Linked DNA regions of Homo sapiens: all the other regions are linked to region 2. The links come from fine-mapping of genetic effects on gene expression. A gene starts in region 2. Each other region holds a variant in brackets. All regions are shown on one strand. Distances are between the middles of the regions.

Evidence for each region. PIP is the estimated chance that this variant, and not a neighbour inherited with it, causes the effect.
Region 1: its variant is fine-mapped to the expression of SV2C-AS2 in whole blood (INTERVAL, PIP above 0.99).
Region 3: its variant is fine-mapped to the expression of SV2C-AS2 in whole blood (INTERVAL, PIP above 0.99).
Region 4: its variant is fine-mapped to the expression of SV2C-AS2 in whole blood (INTERVAL, PIP above 0.99).
Region 5: its variant is fine-mapped to the expression of SV2C-AS2 in whole blood (INTERVAL, PIP 0.95).

What each region holds. Positions count from the first base shown.
Region 1 is chr5:76,476,118-76,481,223 of GRCh38, reverse strand. All of the region lies in intron 2 of IQGAP2 (IQ motif containing GTPase activating protein 2), which reads right to left. Among named protein-coding and RNA genes, the nearest start is that of IQGAP2, 75 kb to the right of the region's middle. The variant T/C (reference allele first, on the strand shown) is at 1,989.
Region 2 is chr5:76,308,579-76,313,684 of GRCh38, reverse strand. SV2C-AS2 (SV2C antisense RNA 2) reads left to right here and starts at 2,056. Exons shown (of 4, transcript XR_001742750.2): 1 at 2,056-2,501. All of the region lies in intron 12 of SV2C (synaptic vesicle glycoprotein 2C), which reads right to left.
Region 3 is chr5:76,295,512-76,300,617 of GRCh38, reverse strand. SV2C (synaptic vesicle glycoprotein 2C) reads right to left here. Exons shown (of 13, transcript NM_014979.4): 9 at 4,676-4,840; 10 at 1,691-1,824. SV2C-AS2 (SV2C antisense RNA 2) reads left to right here. Exons shown (of 4, transcript XR_001742750.2): 2 at 2,433-2,515; 3 at 4,774-4,858. Among named protein-coding and RNA genes, the nearest start is that of SV2C-AS2, 14 kb to the left of the region's middle. RefSeq lists enhancers at 3,542-4,424, 4,404-5,106. The variant T/A (reference allele first, on the strand shown) is at 1,986.
Region 4 is chr5:76,199,118-76,204,223 of GRCh38, reverse strand. The region is part of intron 3 of SV2C (synaptic vesicle glycoprotein 2C); the gene reads right to left. Among named protein-coding and RNA genes, the nearest start is that of SV2C-AS2, 110 kb to the left of the region's middle. The variant C/T (reference allele first, on the strand shown) is at 2,477.
Region 5 is chr5:76,360,260-76,365,365 of GRCh38, reverse strand. No RefSeq gene overlaps it. Among named protein-coding and RNA genes, the nearest start is that of IQGAP2, 40 kb to the left of the region's middle. The variant A/G (reference allele first, on the strand shown) is at 2,630.

The DNA of each region.
Region 1 (5,106 bases), 170 kb before region 2:
GCCCCGGTAGAGACAATATTGTCAGTTCCCATATAAGGCTGCTGCTATGGCCTGAATGTGTGCCCCCAAATTCATATGTTGAAACTTCATCACCATTGTGATAGCATTAAGAGGTGGATCCTTTAGGAGATGATTAAGTCATGAGGGCAGAGCTCTCATGAATGGGATTAGTGACCTTATAAAAGGGCTGGAGGGAACTAGGTAGGGCCTTATTGACCTTCCTTCCATCACTTCCACCAACGGAGGATGCAGCTACAAGATGCCATCTTGGAAACAGATAACCAGCTGGTATGGGACACCAAACCCACCAGTACTTTGATCTTGGACATTCAGTCTCCAGAACTGCGAGAAACAAATTTCTGTTCTTTATAAGTTACTCAGTCTCAGGTACTCTGTTATAGGGGCACAAGAGACTAAGACAGCTGTGTGCCCAGGGATGCACAAAAAATTCTCTCACATCCTCAGTCAAGGTACACCATTATTTCATTTACATGACAACTCACTTCTTTCCCCCTGCAAAATCCCCTAGGAACTGTAGCAGACATGGTAAGAATTGACACATTGGGGCTGTATTTGGGGAGACAAGATAACATACAGAACAATAATATGGAAGTTGCCTATGTATATGAGACACAAAAACACTGAGCTTCCTCCATCTGCTATTCTGTTATACATGACACAGAAGTGATATGGACAGTAAGTGCTAGGGGCGTTCAGAAGAAAAATTACCACTATTTGGGTGACCAAGAAATCTGCAGAGAAAAGATAAGCTCTGGGTTCATCTATGAAGACCAGGTAGACTTTAAAAGGAGTAAAATGATAATTGAGGGAGAAAGGAATAAGAAAACTATTCCAGAGAGAGGGGATTAGCAAAAGTATGGCTGCGAGAAAGAAGGGCCATGTTTGAGAGAAGAGGACCTCCTCTCCACCCAGTCCCTTGAGCTCAGCTCCATCCAGAACAGAGGGTATGTGAAATATGTGCCTTATCCCTCAGAGGACACATATTTGCTTCTCCCTGAGCAGGCTGACATTAATCTGAGGCACACAGACACCCCACTGAGTGAAGTTCTGAGGCAGAGAAGTCAAAGTCTCTGGTGACACTCCCTGCCCAGCCCCCACCTACACAAACAGCTCTGTGGGTGCGTAAAGTGGCACAAATGTCCCTTCAATTCTCTTCCTCCCACACTTAAACCATATCGCTCCTCCCTTCTCCTTGACTGAGCCTGACAACTTCTCCTTTGTTCTTTGTCATCATCCAGCCTGGGAGACACATCAGGAGTAAGAAAATAATACTCCATCTACTTCTTCCTTCTATCAGTCTCTCAAAACCAACACACACACACAGTTCTACACCACACACATGAGTTTATTTATAATTTGACTTAGCCACAAGACTTCTGAATATCATTTAAGTCTGCTGAACCTTTGTTAATTCATCCTTGAACCTGTCTTGTTGGTGTGTTTCAGATTGCAGGCAGTTCTGATGCATAAAAAGCCTACTTAAATCTATTTGTGCAGAACACATCGTCAGGGGTTGAGGGGCTCCATTTGCACAGAGGTCCTTTAAAATCCCTATTTCATAATGTCATCAGCACAGAGCAGCTGCTAGACAAACTATCCCACTGAAATGGAAGGGTGAGGAGCACCCGGTCCTATGTATTCAAAATTGTGAGAGGGATGGCACGTGCTCCCCTAAATGTCTGTGAGTAACAGAGGATATGTGGAATTCAGCCATTTCCACCACACAACACCTTGCTGCCAAGCACAGCCAGCTGGTCTGTGTTCCCCAAAGCGATCCATGCAATTGAGAATGAAAATCATTCAAAGGCTATCCAACAGAATCAGCGTCCCTCACAAAGCCTCTCTAGACAAAAGCACAGGGACAAGAAGCCTAAGCCAGAACTTCTGAGATCACAACACTCACTCAGGCAAAGCAACCTAGCACCCATTCTGCACAGGCCCCGTGCAAGGCAGTGGGGTACAGCGAG[T/C]GAGAATGTCTTCCTCAGGGAGCTCCCTGACTGCTAAGAGAGGACAACACATGGAGAAAGCTACCATAAAGCATACTATGCACAGTGGAAGCAGGACAGGGACCTGAGGCATAACTGAGGAGAGAACGATCAACCATGGCGGGAAGGCGGAGGCGGTGTAAAAGGGGTGAGTATGGGCTCCTGGGCCAGGCTCAGGAGGTGCCCTTCCATGATCCTGCAGGGAAAACGGAGCCTATGAAAGTTGTGAGCAGGGAAAGGCCTAACTAAACACCTCCTGGTTTCTCCCAGATGGTACAATAAACCCCAAGTATGAACTAGGTACAGAAAATTAAAATTAATGTTCTTCCTCCCAGAGATGCCTAGGAAGCAGCACCTAGTGCGGTCATGTATCACTTAATGAGGGAAATGTGTTCTGAGAAGTATGTCATTAGGTGATTCCGTCATTGCGCAAACATCACAGAGTGCACTTAAACAAACCTAGATGGTACAGCCTTCTACACACCTAGGATATATGGCCTATTGCTCCTGGGCTACACACCCATACAGCATGTGACTATACTCAGTACTGTAGGCAGTTGTAGCATGGTGGTATTTGTGTATCTAAACATAAAAAGGGGGCCCGGCCTGTAGCTGGGATTACATGTGCGCACAACCACGCCTGGCTCACGCCTGTAATCCCAACACTTTGGGAGGCCAAGGTGGGCGGATCACTTGAGGACAGGACTTGTGTCACTGTCCTTTAGGATAGTGAATGTGAAGCCCTAGGACATTACCGTACACTACTGTAGACTTTATAAACATCGTACACTTAGGGTATGCTAAATTATTTTTTTTCTTGAGGCGGAGTCTCACTGTCTCCTAGGCTGAAGTGCAGTGGCACGATCTCGGCTCACTGCAACCTCCACCTCCTGGGTTCAAGTGATTCTCCTTCCTCAGCCTCCCAAGTAGCTGGGATTATAGGTATGCACCACCACGCCTGGCTAATTTTTGTATTTTTAGTAGAGATAGGGGTTTTGCCATGTTGGCCAGGCTGGTCTCAAACTCTTGGCCTCAGGTGATCCACCCGCCTTGGCCTCCCAAAGTGCTGGGATTACAGGCGTGAGCCACCACACCATTGCACTCCAGCCTGGGTGACAAGAGCGAAACTCCATCTCAAAAAAAGAAAAAGAAAGGTTCTTTCTTCAATAATAAATTAACCCTAGCTTACTGTAACTTTTTTACTTTATAAACTTTTGAATTTTAACTTTTTGACTCATTAGCTTAACACAAATACATTTTACTGCTGTACAAAAATATTTTTCCCTTTATGTCCTTATTCTATAAGCTTTTTTCTATTTTTAACTTTTTAATTTTTTTTTTTACTTTTTAAACTTTTTTGCTATAAACTAAGACACAAACACACATATTAGCAAGATCCCACATGAGTCAGGATCATCAATATCACTGTCTTCCACCTCCACATCTTGTCCCACTGAAAGGTCTGCATGGAGCTGTTATCTCCTATGATAACAATGCCTTCTCCTCCAGTGCCTCCAAAAGGGCCTGCCTGGGGCCATTTTACAATTTGCTTTTTATTTTAAGTAGAGAAAGTTCACTCTAAAAATAACATAAAAACATAGTAAATACATAAAGCAGTAACATAAGTATTACCATTATGAAGTATTATGTACTGTACACATTTGTATGCGCTATACTTTCATATGACTGGCAGCACAGTAGGTTTATACCAGCATCACCACAAACACGTGAGTAATGCTTTGATTGGGAATTTTTCAGCCCCATTATAATCTTATGGGATATTGTTATGCAGAACATAACTATTACCAAAACATGCTCAAGATAGTGTAAAGCACTTTATTCAAATGCGGCTGTAATGTTTTATTTTGTTTTGATTTGAGACAGGGTATCACTCTTTCACACAGGATGGAGTGCAGTGGTGTGATCACTGTGCACTGCAGCCTCTACCTCCCAGGCTCAGGTGATCCTCCTACCTCAGCCTCCCAAGTAGCTGAAACTACAGGCGTGCACCACCATGCCTGGTTAATTTTTTTTTTTGTATTTTGTGCAGAGACAGGGTTTCACCATGTTGCCCAGGCTGGTCTCAAACTCCTGGGCTGAGGCAATCTACCCATCTTGGCCTCCCAAAGTCCTGGGATTATAGCCACCATGCCTGACCTGTAATGTTTTAACGGATCATAAAATCAACACAGTGGTTCATGACCAGCATTTTCTTAGAAAATGAATTAGAACAGAACAGAATAGTAAACATAAGAGGCTGTTGCATATAGTAGAAGTTAAGTGTTGCTCGGTGAATCTTTAGTTAGACACACACGCCCACTTATTACACATATCACACAGCTACCTGGGTCATGATATAAAATTATTTTACTCTGGGTCATAAGGTTTTAGTCACTTGCTGAAAGTGTATGTCACAGCTAATGAATTAGTAATAAATCAGTAGCACAATTAGTAAATCAGTAACACAAGATCTCTAATGGGCCCCTACCACAGTTACATAAATCTATGCCTGTTTCTGCAGTGGATTTGGTTTCCTAGTAAACTCTAGTAAAAGTCCTGACCCCCCCAGAACTCATATAAAGTCATCTGTCTCCATCCTGCTAACCAGCCCTCCTTAAACATACCCCAAGCCTACTCACTCCTTCCAATGAGCCTCTGAACTCCTGACCCGTTGTAATTCTCCTATATTATCACTTTTTGTTTACACTTTCTCTACCTACTTGTCTAATGAAAAGCTGGCTTTTGCTTCAAAATCCCACCCCTCATAAACCCACTCCAGGGGTGGTTGTTTGCCAAATTTCCTTGACTCCCAGGACAAAGAGAGGATAGTCATCACTTTCCCAAATAAACGTTTCTCCCAGGCCACATCCTGTCCATCACCTCACTTCTCAGGGCTTCACTCTTCCCTCTCACCCCTAACCTTGCCACTCATTTCTTGACCTCCAGGACTTTTCCTTTCTTGCCACAATTGCTGCCTTCCTCCCAGGCCTGCCTCTGCTGGGTGGCTTCAAGAAGGTGGATGACCTTGGTAACACTCCTCCACTACACTCCAACCACACACAGGCACCACACCTTGCACGTTATCACTACCTGGAAATAC
Region 2 (5,106 bases):
AATTAAAGGGGCATTCCCTTGTTTAGCTGGCCCACAAGTCTGGTGGCCCTGCTGTCAGCATATCAAGCACATGGCCCTTTCATGCAAGGGCTTGCTCAGTACCCAAGGACAGCGAGATGGACTTCCTTGGAGCTCAAAAACAAACTTTGTGACTGTTTTTGTGCTAGTACACTTGGCAGGATTTGCTTCCATTGTAATATATTGCCTGATGGCAAGGTTGTGGGAGCAGGAAGCATATATTCCCCACCCCCTTCACCCTCTACTTCTAACTACCAGAGACAAAATGAATCTGACTTTTGCTGGATAGCCAAAGCATAAACATATATAATATAATGATAAGGCGTATAAGGAAAAATCAAGCAGAGCAGAGGGCCAGGGATGGAGTGGATTACATAGGTTGGTTAGTCGCGATAGCTGAAAGATTCCTCTGTACCAAAATCTTCACAAATAAGTGAGATATTTATCTTTATATTAGACGTAGAATGTATTCAAGAAAGAATGAATGAAATTGCCATTACAGAATACCAGATGACGACAGTGAAGAGAATTCTAGAGCTAGAAAGGCCCTGAGATGCTATTTATTTCATACTCCTCATTTAAATCTCAAACAATCCAGGCCCAGCTAGGCTGAGTGGTGTCCCTGAGGTCGCACAGCTGGTCAGTAAGAGATCCAAGATGACAGACCTTCGGAACTGAAGAATGGGGAGGAAACAAGAGAACTCTGTCAAAACAAGGACAGTCCTAAGGGAAGGGCTTGGGTTGCTTAATTCTGGGAAAATGTTTTGATTTTAGCTCATCAAGGAAGAGACCAATCCCACTGCACTGGGTGATGGCAGCAGCTGCCCAGGACTCTCAGGGATCGGCAGGTGTGAACAATCAGATCCTCAAATCCTTTCTGACCTCATGTCTGAAACTGTGCATGCATAAGGGGGCATAAGGGGGAAAGAAAAGGGAAGAAGGTAGGCAGAGAAAGGCAGGAACATGCGGCCAAACGACACCATGAGACAGGCTTGCCTGGCCCTGGGAGTCTGTGCAGAGTTGCAGGACGGCCCTGAGAGCGTGGGCTGCATCTCACAAGGTGTGCGCTCCTGGCCCCGAGCGCCACGGAGGAGGGGTAAAGATGGCCCCTAATGGCTGGGCACGCTGGCTCATGTCTGTAATCCCAGCACGTTGGGAGGCCGAGGCAGGCAGATCACTTGAGGTCAGGAGTTCGAGACCAGCCTGGCCAACACGGTGAAACCCCGTCTCTATTAAAAATACAAAAATTAGCTGGGAGTGGTGGAAGGCACCTATAATCCCAGTTACTCAGGAGGCCGAGGCAGGAGAATTGCTTGAATCTGGGAAGCAGAGATTGCAGTGAGTGGAGATTGCGTCACTGCACTCCAGCCTGGGTGACAGAGTGAGACCCTGTCCCCCCCCCCAAAAAAAAAAAGTGGCCCCTGAGCCATAAGCACACAGGAAATGTGAGCAGGGGACTTGGCCACAGCCACATAGTGGCAGCAGAAAGTTAACACCTGGACGCAGAGAAACATAAAGGCCAAAACCTAGAACTGGAATGAGCTGGAACAGGCCTACACCGCGGGAGCTACATTTATGACTTTTGAGAGATTTACAACTTTCACAAAGCAGGGAGAGAAAAGTAGGGACCCTGATGGATGGAAAAAATCCATTTCAACCTGTCATTACATATACTTTCATTTTGAAGACTTCAAGAGATGAGGGAAAATTGACTTATTTTTCCCAGTTAGGGTATTGAGGGAAGCTGACCAGCACAGACTAAACCCAAAAAATGAAATGCATCTTCTGTTGGTGTTCTCAGTTCTACCGCAAAGAGGGTTGAAAGTAATTTTGCTGGTGGCAGGGACTGGGGACGGAGAAATGAGGGAAAAGGAAGCTCCCCCACACCAGTATGTTAGATGGTTGGGGCTCCTTTCAGATTTACGGCAAGCTGGAAAATCCATTCTATGTCTGGCTCATGTCACATTCATATTTCATGTCTATTAGAAGAATCTCATGCCACATCAATTGTTTGTGATCTACATTACATATAATAGGCTCTCTGCTTATCTTTGACACAGGTGAGGGGCTGATGTAGAAACTGTTAAAAGACTATACAATGACTTGTATATTCAATAATGGCTCAAACTTCAAAGGTCTATCATTTTGCCCTGCTCTTCATTTCTTTCCTCATAATGCTTCTCAAAGCAATCTTGTCTTTCCAGCCTCACAATCAAGGACAAATTCCTGAATGCAACATTTGCTTTTCCGTCTTCCCGCTTCACCTCACTCATCCCTGCAGAAGTACAAGTATTCCTGGCTTCTTCAAGTCTACGCCTAAGAATTAAGAGCCTTGGGGAGAAGGGCACTGCATCGACCACTGCATCTCAATCATTGTGGCAGACGTACCACAGCACTGGGAAGCTGGCCTTGGCAAGAATCTCAGGCTATTACTACAGAGTTGGGAAGAAGGTTTAGGATCAAGATAGAGGTGACTGACCAAGGTGAGTGCATGAGCAGAGAGGTGCCTTCAACTTCCACTGCAGACAGTTCTGATATCTTGCCTCTACCTGAGGTGAGTTCTAGCCCTGGGCAAGTCAGTCCAATGAATGTCATTGAGAACCAGCTGCAAACTACTACTGCCCTACTGACCTAAGCACAGAGGTTATAGGGAAGTCTAACTTGCAAAGCCTTCTCTCAATGTCATACACCATTTTTGAAGATCAAGACATCTTAATACTTTGACCACTTGCTTCCAGGCTAGTTTTTTTGTATTCCACTCTGCCAGCCTGAGTTTCTAGCTCACTGAACTCTTGTCTCCTGGCCTGGTATCCTAACTCTGGTGTCTGTTATTTCTTAGTCCAGATCTGTGTTACCTCTGGATTTTCTTACGTTGATGGATTTACCCCCAGACTCCAACTCTTGCCTCTCAGACATGTTATTTCTATGGAGGCCTTTGTTTTCTGTTTCCTTTGACTTGAACTATTCCAGGTCTCTCTCTTAGACATATTTTCAGAATCTAACCACTTTCTCACCACCTCCATTGGCACCATTACCTCTTGCCACATTTCTTGCTGTGGACTTCATAAGTCAGTTCATGTCACTCATCTGCCCCCAAACCCCACATTGGATTTCATTTTACTCAGCAAGAAGACCAAAGCCCTTTTATTGTCCACTCTGACCCCATGGCTTCTTACCCTCTACCTTGGTCATTCTGCTCCAGCCAGACAAGCTTTGCCTCTCTTCCAACTGGTCTCTCACACTCCCACCTCAGGACCTTTGCACCTGCTGTTGCCTCTGCTGTGAATACACTCTCTCCAGATGTCTGCCTGGGTCTTTGCTCAAATGTCAGCTTTACAGTCACATCCCCCTAGACCATTCTATTTACAGTTGTAACTCTCCTTACCCCAGCATTCTCTATGCTCCACGTAGCTTTATTTTTCTCTACAGCACTTAGCACCATCCAATATACTACATCTACTTTACTTATCTGTTTGTTGGACTGTCTTCCTCAAACTATTATAGAATATAAGCTCTATCAAGGCAAAGCTTTCTGTCTGTTTTGTTCACTGCTGTCTCCCAATGACTAAAATAGTTCCTGGCACAGGATATGCATTCCATAATCATTTTTTTTTTTTGAATGAAATAGTGAATGACCTCTCTATCCCCAGCTCAGGTATCTTTCTGGCATCCAAACAAAAATATTCAAATGCCAATCGGACAGCCCCAGGTTGATGTAAAAACTCAACATGTCCAAAATGGAACTTATTACCTTCTTGACCACAGCCCAGACCCACTGTCCCTCCTGTGTCCCAGCCTCAAAATGCCATTGTGCTCCTGCAGGTGGTTTTTAAAATTAAAAAACATAAACAAAACCTGCCATCTCCATTCACTCAACTGTACACGCAGAAACTGGAATCATCTTTCTTTGACAACCTCTTTTCTTCCCCCTAACATCTAATCAAGCACCAAGCTTTGTTGAATGTATCCCTAAATATCTGTGAACATGTTGAGTGTTGACTTTTCCCCTTTCCAACCTACATTTTTCTTTCTTTCTTTCTGTTTTTTTTTTTTTTTTTTTTTTTTTTGAGATGGAGTTTCGCTCTGTCGCCCAGGCTGGAGCACAGTGGTGCGATCTCGGCTCACTGCAAGCTCCGCCTCCCGGGTTCACGCCATTCTCCTGCCTCAGCCTCCCGAGTGGCTGGGACTACAGGCGCCAGCCACGATGCCTGGCTAATTTTTTGTATTTTTAGTAGAGACGGGGTTTCACCTTGTTAGCCAGGATGGTCTCGATCTCCTGACCTCGTAATCCGCCTGCCTTGGCCTCCCAAAGTGCTGGGATTACAGACGTGAGCCACCGTGCCCGGCCTCCAACCTACAACTTAAGTGTCTTAACCAGCCTCCCTGCCTTCTTTCTGGCCATTAGAGGGAGCTCTCTAAAGGCCAAGAATGATCTTGTCATTCTCTGTAAGACAGCTCAAAGTCTCCCCGTCCCCACACAATAAGGCAATGTGAAAGAGTCTTCATGACTTGTTCTTTGAGTAACTCTTTTACTTCCAGAGCTTGTTAGCTGGTATTTGCTCTAACTGAAATGTTCTTTCCATCTTTTTGACTGGTTATCACCTACTAGATCTCAATTAAATGGAACTTCTTTCAAGAAAACCTCTCTGATGCTCTGAGCATCATGCACTTCCCATGTAATAACCCTGACCACTATATTACAACTGAAGTTTGCTTGTGCTTATGAGAATAAAGACCACAACTGATTTACTCACGGTTGTATCATAGGTGCTCAAAAAAATAGTTGTTGAGTAAATAAACAAACAGTATTAAAATTCACACCGAGATGGAATAGATATACTTTTCTTATTCTTCTTGATAAGTACAACAAAATATCCTGCACATTATATATAAAACAAACAGAACAAGACTGAAAGAGGAAAAAGGCAGAACTGCTAGGGAGCTTGGGGATGGGGAGTTCCCTGCGTTTGCCTTCTGCTCCATAGATCTCAGACTTGGAATCGAACAAGTTGCCAACCCAGAAATGCCAATAGGCACAGAAAAAGAAAAGCCACAACCAAAGCCTGCTCTCTCTAGCCCAAGGACCAG
Region 3 (5,106 bases), 13 kb after region 2:
GCTTTCAGGCCTATGCTAGCTTGACTTTTTGGGTCTTCTGGCCAAAGCATAGGATCTAGTCTGGGTCTTCACATCATAAAGTAGGTGAATGATGAGATACCTTTGCTGAATAAAGGAATACATTAAATTAAGGGGTCCAGTTATCTTCTGATTTCCTATGGTCGGCCATTGCTAATTATATTACTTGCTTACTCCTTTACAATATTACTATGTCCTAATTATCATGTTACATAAAGACTATCATTATAGTACTAATAGTGTCCATACTACAATTATAAAAACAATTTGTTTCAAAATGTGCATGGGCTGGGTGTGGTGCCTCATGCCTGTAATCCCAGTGCTTTGGGAGGATGAGGCAGGAGGATTGCTTGAGCCAGGAGTTCAAGACTAGCTTGGACAACATAGTGAGACACCATCTCTACAAAAATAATAATAATAATAATAATAATAATAATAATAATTTTTTATTTGAGGCCGCAGTGAGCTGTGATTGCGCCACTGTACTCCAGCCTGGATGACAGAGCAAGACCCTGTCTCTAAGGAAAAAAAAGTGCAAGAGTCAGCCTTATCATTGCCATTTTATGAGACTAGAGGGCACAGAGAAGGAACAAGTCTTTCCTGAGGCTGAATTTATAATTTAAAGTCTATGTGCATGAATCTACTGAGGAACAAGAGTCAGCCTCATCTGAAGGTCACCAGCATTCATTGCTAATCTTTTCTTGAATTTGAAACCATCCAAGAAGAGTTGCAGATGGTGGTGGTTTCTGCTAAAAGGCTGTGAGAATTGAAACTATCTTCCTTGCTGATCAAGATCTGACAAAATGTTCGTCTTCTGAGGTTTAATGGGTTAGAAGACAGGTAGATAGCATTGCTCAAAAAACAAAAAACAGAAAGACACCTGACCTCATTCTTCTTTGGAGCTAGGCAGAGCCCTTGTCTGAGCACTAAGAAGGCAGGTCTGGCAACAGGGCAAATGCTGATGCTCCTGCCAATGCCACGCTGTTATGCTGGATTCATTTTATAGGACACACAGACCAATGTTTGGGAGTGGGAAAGTGGAAGGCACAGGCTTTGAAATCAAATAAATCTGGGTTCAAACATCTGTTATTACTAGTTCTATAATTGTGGACAAATTACTTAACTTTCCTAAGCCTCAGCTACTGTGAAAACTAAATGAGATAATGAATGTCTAATGACCTAGAGTAGAAAACAGTATATAGGTGTTCAATCAATGCTTGTTTGCCTTCCTTTTTTTTCCCCCTGGGGAGTTTAAAATACCCCATTATATGGATTTGGCCAAAATATATATGTATCTGAGCATAGCCACATGTTGTCTATCTCTGTTGGCTATAGAGTTGAGGCATTTAAACAAACACCAGATTTTGAACCCAGGATTATCAAAACAAATAAACTACAGGTTAGGTCTTTGCTTTAAAAATTTATTCATCAAAGGATTTTTTTGTTGTTGTTGTTGCCAACTTTTGAACTTTGGCAAGCTCCATTTGCACTAAATCTGACAAAGACAAACAATACAAGCCAACCTTTGATCCAACCTGATTTAGAGAACTTGTTCCATTTATTCTTTAATATCCACTTCCCGCATAAGCCTCTGCCCACATTATCACATGGTTATCACAGTGGGCCCTTTGGAGAGGCCTCAGGTAGAGGCAGTACTAAGTAGCACACCTACCTGTGTTGTCAAAAACAGTGTCAATAAATGTGCAGTTCTTGAAGTAGGTGTTCACTGAAGTTACATCCTCAAAGGTGCAGGACTTAAAAACAGAGTCTTTGAAAGTTACAGATTTGAACTTGACCCCTATGAATCTGCCCAACACACAGAAAAATTCATATCAATCAATGACTGTGTCCATCAAAGTTCAAAGCTAAGTCAAATAGTTTTAGAGATGGAATGCCCCACTATGGACTGTCTTAATTATAAAGAACACAGAGTTCTTGATTTTCTTAGCTCTCTGCTTTTTCCCCTT[T/A]TTCTCATCCAGGCTGACCTTTGGCTATCTTATTGCTTACCAATATTATTTTTCACCAGGAAAAGAGATGACACTCCTAACTTCCCTTAGCTTTTTGTAATGTTGGTAAAAAGTTTTGTGGGGTATGCAACTGAAGATAGTTTGGGGATTACCTGGGGCTATTCTTTAGGTTTTAATCCTATCGTCTCTTCATGTATATCTTTATTTGAATATTCTCTATTTGGGGTTAATGGCTCTAACTTAAGGATGTCCTCCTACCCGATCTTTTAATAACTTTATTTTTCCCTAGCTGAAAATCCAAGTCTTCTTCATTCTAGTGTAGGGACCTGTAATTATCCTGAAGAGAGAGCATGAGAATTCTGTTTCATTTATGTGAGGAATAACTGACTTGGGGTTGAAGAAACTCATAGGTGACGCTCATTTCCAGGATAATTTTTCTTCTCACAGCCAACAGATAGTCCTTGAACCAAAAGGAATTATGAGAACTCTGCTTATTTTTGGAAACATGAAGAATGATGAAACCTGTTCAGGTATATTTTTGGGTATTATAAGGGGGAATTCTACGTGGTAAAAATGGTAACAGTCATAATGATAATAACATCTTAGAAGAGTCCATGATCCAGGCCTTATCAGCATTGATAAGGACTCCCAGCAGACACAGATAAATATTCATTAACGTGTCCTGGTACTTTATTAAGAGACTATGAATGTACACTTAGCCAGTCACTGAGAGGAAAATGCTTGTTCTCCTCGGGAAGGAGTTGTTATGTCAATACCACTCTTATTAGGGGCAGAAAGGGACTGATCCTTCTAGGTAAGTAGGTTGATTTAAAAGCAGTTTACTAACTATTGAGTACTTTCAAATTTATTCTCTCCCTAATACCCAATTACGTGTGTTGGTTCAAAATGCACATGGCCTCACAGACCAATCAGCTTAAAAAAGAAATCATTCCCATGGTACATTACCTGGAAATAATAATAATGATCTCGTTTCAATCCCCACTCCAGGGACCCAGAGTAAAAACATCTAAATGCACCAAAAGAGACTAAATAATGGCACATCTTTAAAAAGTTATCAATTTTTTCTGTCATGGAACTGAATTTGGAAAAGGGAATGAATCAGTTTTATTTTTTGAATGGATAATTCAGAGAGTACACATGGTGCACAATTCGAAAGGTTGAAAATGGAAAAAGTCAGTCTTTTCCCATCCATCCCCAGGCCACAAGTTCCTCTGCCCAGAATAACCATTGTTGTCAGTTTCTTGTGTGCTCCTCCAGGAGCATTCTGTGTCTAAAGTACACCTGCTTTATCTCCTTCTAGTCTACCTTGGAGGTTATTCCGTATCAGTATATAAAGAGTTGCCATTTTATGATGCTGAATAAAAAAGCTATTTTTTAAAAAATTTCGTTAATGGTATTTCAAATTTTCCTGAAGGACAAAAAAATTGTTTCTATCATCTTTTAAAATAAATGTGTAACATATGTTTTACAAAAACTGTAATACTATTAAAATTAGTAATCATTATATTGCTAATGTAAAAAAGTTCTAAGCAGTGACTGAGTATCCAGTTTAGAACTTTAACATATATTACTAAAAATATGACTGTCAGAGACACAAACATATATTAGAAATTTCTAATGGAGTAACAATACTTTTGAAAGTCAGTTTTCACCCTGGCATCACAGAGGACTTGACACTAAGCTTTCTGTGAAATGCTAAGTGCAGATTCAAGTCAGTATTTTATGTGGGAGAGTGAAGGTGATCCCACTTGGCTTGGATGATGATTAGTTCCTTCATTGAATTGCTAATTTGAACAATTACCTCCTAGTTAGTAACCCTCTTTTCCATTACATAGATCATAAGCATCCCACTGAATTCTTTTTCATCTTTCTGAACTGGTTTTTGCCCTGGGGAACTTTGATTATTTTAGAGTTTTATTTTATCACTTTTGAAATTGGGACAACTTCCTAAGAATGATGTAAACTATCATGAACTTACACTGGCAATTATTTGTTCAGGCAACAAAAATACTTGGATATAAACAAGTACTTGGTCTACTCTTTTCCATCTCTAAAAGAATGACCCAGGACCACCTCCCTGAGTCAGTTCTCTCTTGTCATCAAGAAGTATTTCAGATCCCATAAAGGAGACCCTTCCGTCTTTCAAAGCCCTTTACTTTGGGGAATGATTCCTGTTCTCTAATTGAAACTCTTCCTGATGCAATTTAACCTCAATTCTGGATTCAGCGTATTGGGAAGGATGAATTCTGAAAAGTGGCTCTGTTTCTCAGGAATAGAAGACTCATATAATCACATTTCAGATTTCTTCTGTGAATTAAATAATCCTATAGCCTGTCTTATTTTCCCATACTCTTCACTCTTCTCTTCCTTCCATTATTTTTGTTGCTCTCCAACATTGCTCTAAATTTTCCTTCCACACCAGTCAAGTCCACTACCTAATAAATATGAAGCAACTTAGCTGCAAAAATAGTTTTAAGTGAAGTAATGGATACATTTGTACCTTTTATTTAAAGCCTATTAAGAAGTATTGAAATTCATCATGAAAATGACTAAATGTACAAACTAAAACAAACAAACAAAAAACTATGCCTGTTTCAGTGCAGGGAAAGCTAAGAAGAAATAAGTTTTTGTGAATAGGTAGCAAATTAAATTATTTCAAGTTTCTAGACCTGCCATTGTCGTATTCCATTCCAGTATGAATCTGATTTTCCATTGTAAAGTTAATAGTGAAATTTGCATATTTATCTCTCTCCACATTTCTGGTTAGCAATGCATATTCATCGGACTGCAGAGGTTTAATGACATCAGGGAACCAAACGGATAATCCATAGTACCTGCAAAGACAAAGAAATGTGAGTTTGTAAAGGCACTAGCATGCCAGAGGCAATGAGCAACTCCCTGATGTTTTCAGACTGGTAATAGTTCCCGGAGAATGGCTGGCTCCCTATAACATTATGAGTAATTCATCATACAGCAATCCATGTGTCCCTCTCCCCCAGCATTAATCTGCAAAAATCAAGCTTGAGAGATGGCCTATGGTTAGCTGGAGAACCCCAGGTATGTAATTCCTAAACCCTTCCTTTGGGAAGAGACATGCAGA
Region 4 (5,106 bases), 110 kb after region 2:
CAAATTGCAAAGCAATTCAGAGCCAATTTATTATGTTATAAATTGGACCCAGAAATAAGGGATTAGAGCAGCAGTCCAAAGATGAACCTTTCAGTCTCTTCCACTTTATGAAAGTAAATAGAGTATCACAGACCTTGGGGAGATTGCTCAGAGGCTTAGATGAAAGAGCACACACCTAACACTCTTTCTGAATAGGCTAGGTTGGCACAGAAAATAAGGTTGCTATATAGATCAGAAGGCACATGTTTGCTATCAGTGATAAAGATAGAAATGGGAGAAAAACACATACTGGTAACCTAACTCATCATCAAATCAAGAACAAGAATTTCCTTTGCCCAGTGGCAATGCCAAAGGATGGATGATTTGGGTAGCTTTAGTCTTCAATTTCCAAAGCCACAATTTGAAAAATAATATTCTTCGATATATGAAGTTGTCATTTTCTAAATATTATGTAAACTATGAATAGAATAATGAGTAGAAAATTTGGTTATTTAAAAAATATTGATCTTTAAGTATATAATTTGTGGGGAAAACTGCATTGCCAAGAAAACAGCTGCAATTCAACTCCCTTAGCCCTGGTTTGCTATCAGATTGGTGGCCTAACCCCCTAAAACTGTGGAGGTCTATGCATCCACAGTAGCAGACTTAGTACCACTGAGGGAAGTGGGGTAGTCATGGATCAAGACTTTAATACTGTCTTGAAAAAAAATTAGCTATTGATAGAGTTGGAAGAATGCCTTCCCATAGCATCTAAAGGTGCCATGAATAAAGATGGTGATGATCATTATGATGTTCTATAATTAATGATAGAACATGCAGATGTATCTAGCCTCTTGCTGTATACATTTCCTCATCCATTCCTGCACTCATCCTCCCACCCACCCTTCATTTACCCATTATCCACCCATTATCCCTCTATCCACCCCCTCACCCAATCAAACTCTGGGCCAGGCACATCACCAGTTGTTGGAGGTGCAGGCATGAAGCACACAAATTCCTGCTGTGGGCTCCAGAGAGTGAATTCTAAAGAGTGCATATGGCTAATTTTTCACAATTATACACTGTGGGTCTGGAAGATCTTTTGTTCTGTTCCTTCTCCTTTGTGATCAATAGTACCTTTGCTAAAGGGTATACTGGGAAACAAAATGTGTCCAAAAGGTCAGCCTTTTTGTTGGAAAGTAAAAAGCATTGCCTAAGACAGTGCTTTCCAATAGAAAATGTGAGCCACGTATGTAATTTTAAATTTTTCCAGAAGAGACATTAAAACAAAACAATCACGTAAAGTTAATTTTAATATATAGTCATTTAACCCAATATATGTAAAATATTATTTTAACGTGTAATCAATGTAAAATTATTGAGATATTTTGCATTCTTTTATATGTTCTAGGTCTTTGAAATCCACTGCTATGTATTTTATACCTACAACACATCTCAACTTGGACTAGTCACATTTCAAGTGCTTGGTAGCTACATGAAGCTAGTGGTTACCATGTTGGACAACGCAGCTCTAAGAAAACACTGACACACTGTTTACAATTTGGGTTTTATATTATTTTTGGATTAAAGATAATCTTGACTGTTGCCTCATTTTACATATTGGGGAAGGTCTTTCCCTTCTGATGCTCTGGGGCCAGAGATATTTTTGGACTGATCTGTTCAAACACGTATGAGCACATATCATGTATACGTTGTGCCATATGAAATCAGAGACATTTCTGGTTGAGTCTGAAGCACAGCACAGCCTGATGGTTATGAGCATGGGCCCTGGAGCCAGACTGCCTGGGTATGAAACCTGATTACATTACTTATTGTGTGACCTCAGATAGGAACTTAACCTCTCTGTACTTCAACTTCCTCATTTATGACATACAGTTAAGATATATGAATAATGAATAGCATCTTTCTCATCGGGTCACTGATGAGAGTCAATATTTACTAATATAAAGTGCTGAACACAGCATCTCTCACGCGGCAAGCACTATAGAGGTGTTTGATAAAATACATTTTAAAAGTCTTAAACAATTTTAAATGACTGCATTTTTCCAATATGATTATTTTAAGAAAAAGACTACTTTGAAGGGAAAAACCTCATAGCTCAGAATCAGACCAAAATTCAGAAGACTGGGTGTCTGTTGAATATTTGGAAGCAATAATCAATCCGTGCCTCAATTTTCTTTTTCTTTCTTTTTTTTTTTTTTTTTTTTTGAGATGGAGTCTCGCTCTGTCGCCCAGGCTGGAGTGCAGTGGCGCGAGCTCAGCTCACTGCAAGCTCCGCCTCCCAGGTTCGCCATTCTCCTGCCTCAGCCTCCCGAGTGGCTGGGACTACAGGCGCCTGCCACCACGCCTGGCTAATTTTTTGTATTTTTAGTAGAGACGGGGTTTCACCATGTTAGCCAGGATGGTCTCGATCTCCTGACCTCGTGATCCGCCCACCTCAGCCTCCCAAAGTGCTGGGATTACAGGCATGAGCCAC[C/T]GTACCCGGCCTCTGTGCCTCAATTTTCTAATAAAAAAGGCACACAATTTTTACATGACAAATTATTTAAAACAATTGTGGAAATAAATGGGATGCTACATATAAAGCATTCTGAATAATTCCAGTTAATGGTGATGATTTCTACAAAGCCAAGGTATTCTTACTATAACTCAATACAGCTAATGAATGAATATTGCAAATAGCTATGAAGTACACATTTGGTAGGCTCTATTCACAGAGGAAGAAATTACTATTCTTTCATTTACGATATACAGACACGTTGAAATTTCATTTTAATTTCTGTTGCTATTATATTTTTCTCCTGACCTTCCTGCTTAGCAGTGCCAGGCCCTCAGTGAGAAGCTCCCGACTCTGATATTGCCTAGCATCCAAAGTACTATCATTCCCATAATTAACAGTGACTGGCTACAAATAATTTAATTCTGGGTCAAATGAAAATGAATCAATGGTGCCAACTCCATTTCCCATCTTTCTAATTTTCTATAACAAAAGAGGGGAGGAAAGTGTCTGTTTCTTGGTGTGAGATTCGTTTAGGAAAGTGATAGACAGATGAGTAATTGGTGATGTCCTAGTCCTCCTTCCCACACAACGCTGTTGTCCCCAGGCAGGAAAATCATTCATTGTACCGAATAAACATTTAAAGTCATATACAATATGTCAGCTGGACATATTTGTGTTTCTAAGAAGATATGCTCATGACTTGGTTTGATGAATTAAGAGGAAAGCACATTTGGAGACAATAAAAATATAAACCCAAGTAGATCTCAGTTTAAAACAAGAGCTTGGCCAGGTGCAGCAGCTCATGCCTGCAATCCCAGCACTTTGGAAAGCCAAGGCTAGGAGGATTACTTGAATCCAGGAGTTTGAAACCAGCCTTGGCAACATAGGGAGACCTTGTTTGTACAAAACATTTTTAAAAGTTAGCTGGGTGTGGTGGCATGCATCTGTGGTCCCAGCTACTCAGGATGCTGAGGTAGGAGGATCACTTGAGCCCAGGAGGTCAAGGCTGCAGTGAGCCATGATCGCACCACTGCATTCCAGCCTGGGTGACAGAGTGAGATCCCATCTCAAAAAACAAAATAAAACAAAAAATAAAATAAAAAAGAACTCCTTCCAGTCCCCTTTATTTGCAGAGACAGTGCTGCTAATGATGCTTCAGCAATGAAATAAGACACAGCAACTGGAAATCTGTAGCATTTTTGATAAAATCAACACACAGACAGGTAAACCTTGGATTCAGAATGTACATTTTACTTATTTACAGAGTTGCAAGTTTAAAATGACTTTAATTGCAATTTAAGTCCTAGCTGAGTTATTCCTGGTTCCACCACTGCACCTCAATCTGCAAAATGAAAAGTTTGGACTCTCTGAACTAGAACTTCTCTTTGTTCTAAAATTCCTAGTAAATGGAGCTGATGGACAGGCCCTGTACCAATTAAATGTGGGGATTCTGTACCAATGTGGGAATTCTGCCAGCTGCTGAGTAGGTCTGTTCCAATTATGCAGTCCAGAACTGTGGAATCAGGCACGGGATGGATTCAGTGCCTGACTCACTGGGCCCACTGTGAAACAGACCTGAGCTAAAACACCATTGATTACCTGCCTTCCATAAGCCCCTGCTCTGACTGGTTGACCACAGTGACATTTTGTGTCTCCTGGAATTAGTGTCAGTTTAGAGCCAGTGTCCACAAGCCCTGAGAAGACTGATTATTTCCTTTCTCCCATGCACACTCATCCTGGTAAAAGGCCTTCAGTCCCTTTGGGGAAGCTGGGAGAAAGACTAACAGTATAAATATTTAGCTGGGTACAAAGATCCTTCTTCAAGGAGGCCCAGCCTCCCCTTCATTCAGTTGGTTCTGGGTCTGTAAAGCAGCTCCAGTCTGGGAATGATGGAGGGGACATGACTCAAGTTAGATTTTCATTCACTAGTCATATAAGTTTTCTACTTATACAGATCAAGTAAGAATTGAGTAGGCTTCCTATCTATTTCACTTCATGATTAACTAGCCAATGACACAGATGGCTGCAAGTCAGACTATGCTGGTTGCTGCTTGAACTCCACTGTCTTTTACAATACCCATGCCCACTCTGCCATGGGCGATTAAGCAATGTTGAACAAGACGACAGTCCCAGCCCTTTGGAATTTACATGCTGGTGGAGGAGAGAAAGAAGAACATAAGAAGTAAATATTTTCAGGCATCAGTTGTAAGTGCTGCCAAGGAGACAAAACAGGAAACTCTCTGAGACCCACTGGGTGTGTGGTCTCAGGAAACGCCTCTGGGAAGCTGTGAGTGGGAGGGCCCTGGGAGAAGAAGCTTCAAAGCAGAAAGGATGGCAAGTACTGTACTCCTAGGAAATGCGTGGAGTGCGGGGGCCTATGTGCACCAGAGGCCCACAAAAGAAACATTCCCAACATTTTGGAATGTTATTTCACGTAGTTTTTCTCAATTTAAAAACTGGACCAGATATGGTTGGAGGGAGTTGTTTAAGTAGATAAAACATGGTCTTTTATTTAAGGTCTCTAGGATGAGAATCTTAATTCTCTGGCTTAAGTTTTAATAAAGAAAGTTTAAATAAAAAAAAGAATATATAAAACTTCAGCTGCTTCT
Region 5 (5,106 bases), 52 kb before region 2:
TTCTTTTATCTTGGAATCAGGACAAATCATGAGTTTTGATGACTTGAAACTTGAACTCTGGATATTTAAAGGAGCCTTCAGTGTTTTTAAACCAAATGATCACATTAGGTTAAGAAAATTACTGAATTTGCTGTACATCAACCTTGGGGGTAAGCTAGAGCTATGTATTTTATATGATAGATTTGATTCCATTAAAAATAAGACAATTGGTCAGAAATAAAATTACACCTTAAGTTGTTAGTGAAAAGGGGCTTTTAAATGAATCTTACTTTTCCCCAGATTAAACTATAATTTGAAAATGGATTCATTCATTTTATTTGCCCATTCACTAGGTCAAGCATTGATTGGGTATCTCTGAGTACTTGATGGGTGTACAGAGATGACCTAAAAAGGCTTGATTCTTGGCCAGGCGTGGTGGCTCACGCCTATAATCCCAGCACTTTGGGAGGCCCAGGGGGGTGAATCACCTGAGGTCAGGAGTTCAAAACCAGCCTGGCCAACATGGCGAAACCCCGTCTGTACTAAAAATACAAAAATTAGCCAGGCATGGCGGCGGGTGCCTGTAGTCCCAGCTACTCAGGAGGCTGAGGCACAAGAATCGCTTGAACCTGGGAGGCAGAGGTTGCAGTGAGCCGAGATCACACCACTGCACTCCAGCCTGGATGACAGAGCAAGACCCTGTCTCAAAAAAAAATAAACAACAGTTTGATTCTTTTATTTTCAATTATTACTTTTTTTTCTTTTTTAATAGAGATGAGGTCTCACTATGTTGCCCAGGCTGGTGTTGAACTCCTGGGCTCCAACAATCCTCCTGCCTCAACTTCCCAAAGTGCTGAAATTAGAGGCACACCAACCTGGCAGCTTGATTCTTTTGAAATCAATTTTTATTGATTTGCAGTTGTCCGTGGTTTCTAGTGACACTATAAGTTTCTTGGCTTTTTATTCAGCTGTGAAGGCAGTGTAATGGAAAGAACATTGAGTTAGTCTGGGGTGTTTTCCAAGACCAACCACCAATTCTCTGTGAACATTAAATGAATATCCTAAAATTCAATTCAATTCTGACAATAACTACTGTCAACTGAGAATGACAAGGCCTATACATGTGGAAAGGAGAGTTTTCTTTCTCATAAAGCGTTGCAGCCTGCAGAGTGACAGGCTGGGAAGTGTAGGTGCTGGCCAGAAGCCAGAAACAGATGCGTCAAGGGAGTGGCAAAGGGCACATGAATTTATACCGAGCGGGCTGGCCGAATATGCATATTCAATAAGCTGTAGCAGGAGTTGTGAATATTTATGAAAGGAGAAACATGAGCTTCATGCCCCTTCGTGTGTCCCGTGTACAAAAACGGTGGTGATAGCATGATCTGAGGGTAGAGTTTTCAGCCCTCTGACCCCAAAAGATGAAGCAGAGAGCACAGAAACCCCTACTGCACATTCTTTGTAGACTGGCCAGAACCGCTCCGTGGTCAGTGGCCTCTTATCATGGGGGGGCAGCCTCACATGGTTGGTTGATACGAGAGCCTTTTGAAAGGGCTGGTTTCTGTTAAGCCCTTAGGAAAGAAAGCCTTATCATGCTTAGCTAGGGAGAGGGCATAATAAGGTGTGTCCAACCTCCTATCCCACCATGACACAGAACTCAATTTTCAAGGTTACTATGGGGTCTCTTTAACCAAGAGAGGGTCTGTTTAGTCCGTTGGGCAGTTTAGGATTTTATTTTTATTTCTTGCTGCCCAAAGCTATTACTAGCATAGACACCACAGGTTAAGGACTCAGTCCCACAAGGCTCCTCCCACTTCACATCAGTTACAAGTCTCAGGTTCCGGCACTTCTGGCTGTCCTTGCTACAAATCAAGAGCTACTGTAACCGCCCCCCGCCACCCCCCACCCGATTCGATAATTTGAAATAATGGCTCACAGAACTCAGGGATACCTTATTTATGTTGATCAGTTTGTTATAAAGGCTGCAACTCAGGAAGTCAAATGGAAGAGATGCATAGGGCGAGGTATGGGGATCAGGGAAAGCCCTCTCCAGACACACCACCCTCCTAGCACCTCAATGTATTCACCAACCCAGAAGAGCATCAACTCTCATTGCTCAAGAGTTGTTTGTTTTTCTCCTTGAGACGGAGTCTTACTCTGTTGCCCAGGCTGGAGTGCAGTGGCACTATCTTGGCTCACTGCAACCGCCACCTCCCGGGTTCAAGCAATTCTCCTGCCTCAGCCTCCTGAGTAGCTGGGATTACAGGCGAGCGCCACCACGCCCCACTAATTTTTTGTATTTTTAGTAGAGATGGGTTTCATGAGCGTCCGTGTGAAGAGACCACCAAACAGGCTTTGTGTGAGCAACATGGCTGTTTATTTCACCTGGGTGCAGGCGGGCTGAGTCCAAAAAGAGTCAGCGAAGGGAGATAAGGGTGGGGCCGTTTTATAGGATTTGGGCAGGTAAAGGAAAATTATAGTCAAAGGGGGTTTGTTCTCTGGCAGGCAGGAGTGGGGGTCGCAAGGTGCTCAGTGGGGGTGTTTTTTGAGCCAGGATGAGCCAGGAAAAGGACTTTCACAAGGTAATGTCATCACGTAAGGCAAGGACCGGCCATTTACACTTTTGTGGTGGAATGTCATCAGTTAAGGCGGG[A/G]CAGGGCATATTCACTTCTTTTGTGATTCTTCAGTTACTTCAGGCCATCTGGGCGTATACGTGCAAGTCACAGGGGACGTGATGGCTTGGCTTGGGCTCAGAGGCCTGACATTCCTGCCTTCTTATATTAATAAGAAAAATAAAACAAAATAGTGTTGAAGTGTTGGGGTGGCGAAAATTTTTGGGGGGTGATATGGAGAGAGAATGGGCGATGTTTCTCAGGGCTGCTTCAAGCGGGGTTAGGGGCAGTGTGGGAACCTAGAGTGGGAGAGATTAAGCTGAAGGGAGGTCTTATGGTAAGGGGTGATTTTGTGGGGATGTTAGAAGAAACATTTGTCATATAGAATGATTGGTGATGGCCTGGATATGGTTTTGGATGAATTGAGAAACTAAATGGAATAACAGAAGGAGAAAAACAGGTATAAAAGGTCTAAGAATTGGGACGACTCAGGATATCTGATTAGAGAGTGCCTAAGGAGATTCAGCATAGTCCTGCCAGCAAAGATTATTTATTTACTTCAAGAGTTAAGAGTGGCAGTTTGGGGATAGCACCAGGAGATATCAGCTGTGATGGCTTGGAAAAACAGTGTAAACCGGCAGTGTAAACAAGAGCAGGGCATGTATGAGTAGTTGAGAACGGTGAATAGGAGTATGACTAGACAGAAGATAGTAGGGATGACAAGTTTTCGGGGGCACAGTCTAAGTTGGTCTGGTGTCTGGAATGAGACTGGGGCCTAATAAAAACGAGCGTCTACACAGGAGCTCAAATGGGCTGTACCCTGTAGCATTCCGAGGACAGGCCTGAATTCTGAGAAGGGAAAGTGGTAACAGTATTGTCCGGTCCTTTTTGGTGGCTGAGCTTGGTGAGGTGTGTTTTTAAAAGACCTTTAGTCCATTCTACTTTTCTTGAAGATGGAGGACCGTAAGGGATATAAAGGTTTCACTGAATACTAAGAGCCTGAAAAACTGCTTAGCTGATTTGACTAATAAAGGCTCATCTGTTTTCAGACTGTATTGAGGTGGGAAGGCTAAACTGAGGAATTATGTCCGACAGAACAGAAGAAATGACTGTGGTGGCCTTCTCAGACCCTGTAGGAAAGGCCTCTACCTATCCAGTGAAAGTATCTACCTAGACTAAGAGGTATTTTAGTTATCTGACTCAGGGCATGTTGAGTAAAGCTAATTTGCCAGTCCTGGATGGGGCAAATCCTCGAGCTTGATGGGTAGGGAAGGGAGGGGACCTGAATAATCCCTGAGGAGTAGTAGAATAGCAGATGGAACACTGAGAAGTTATTTCCTTGAGGATAGATTTCCACGATGGAAAGGAAATGAGAGGTTCTAAGAGGCGGGCTAGTGGCTTGTACTATAGTATAACCTGCCTTTGCTGGTGTGTGGCGATTAGGCCTGGTGGACCATCAATAAATCAAGCGTGATCAGGGTGAGGAACAGGAAAGAAGGAAATATGGGGAAATGGGGTGAATATCAGGTGGATCAGAGAGATACAGTCATGGGGGTCAGGTGTGGTATCAGGAATAATGTGGGAGGCCAGATTGAAGTCCGGGCCAGGAACAATGGTAATTGTGAGTACAGCTGAAGGAGCCGGGGAGCAGAAAGTATATGCGTCAGGTATGAGGAAGAAAATAGATTTTGGAAGTTATGAGAACTGTAGAGAGTGAGTTGAGCATAGATTGTGATTTTGAGGGCCTCTGAAAGTATTAATGCAGTGGCAGCCGCTACACGCAGACATGAGGGCTAGGCTAAAACAGTAAGGTCAAGTTGTTTGGACAGAAAGGCTACAGGGTGTGGTCCTGGCTCTTGTGTAAGAATTCTGACCACACTAACCATGCCTAGGAAGGAAAGGAGTTGTTTTGTAGAAGGTGCTGGGGTTTGAGAGATCAGTGGGACACGATTGGCAGAGAGAGCACGTGTGTTTTTATGAGAATTATGCCGAGATAGGTAACAGATGAGGAAGAAATTTGGGCTTGATTGAAGTAATGGGGGCTGTCTGTGAAGCTTTGCGGCAGTACAGCCTAGGTAATTTGCTGAGCTTGATGGGTGTCAGGGTCAGTCCAAGTGAAAGCGAAGAGAGGCTGGGATTAAGGGTGCAAAGGAATAGTAAAGAAAGCATGTTTGAGATCCAGAACAGAATAATGGGTTGTAGAGGCAGGTATTGAGGATAGGAGAGTATATGGGTTTGGCACCACGGGGTGGATAGGCAAAACAATTTGGTTGATAAGGCGCAGATCCTGAACTAACTTGTAAGGCTTGTCTGGTTTTAGGACAGGTAAAATGGGGGAATTGTAAGGAGAGTTTATAGGCTTTAAAAGGCCATGCTGTAGCAGGCGAGTGATAACAGTCTTTAATCTTTTTAAAGCGTGCTGCGGGATGGGATATCGGTGTTGAGTGGGGTAAGGGTGATTAGGTTTTAATGAGATGGTAAGGGGTGCATGATCGGTTGCCAAGGAGGGAGTAGAGGT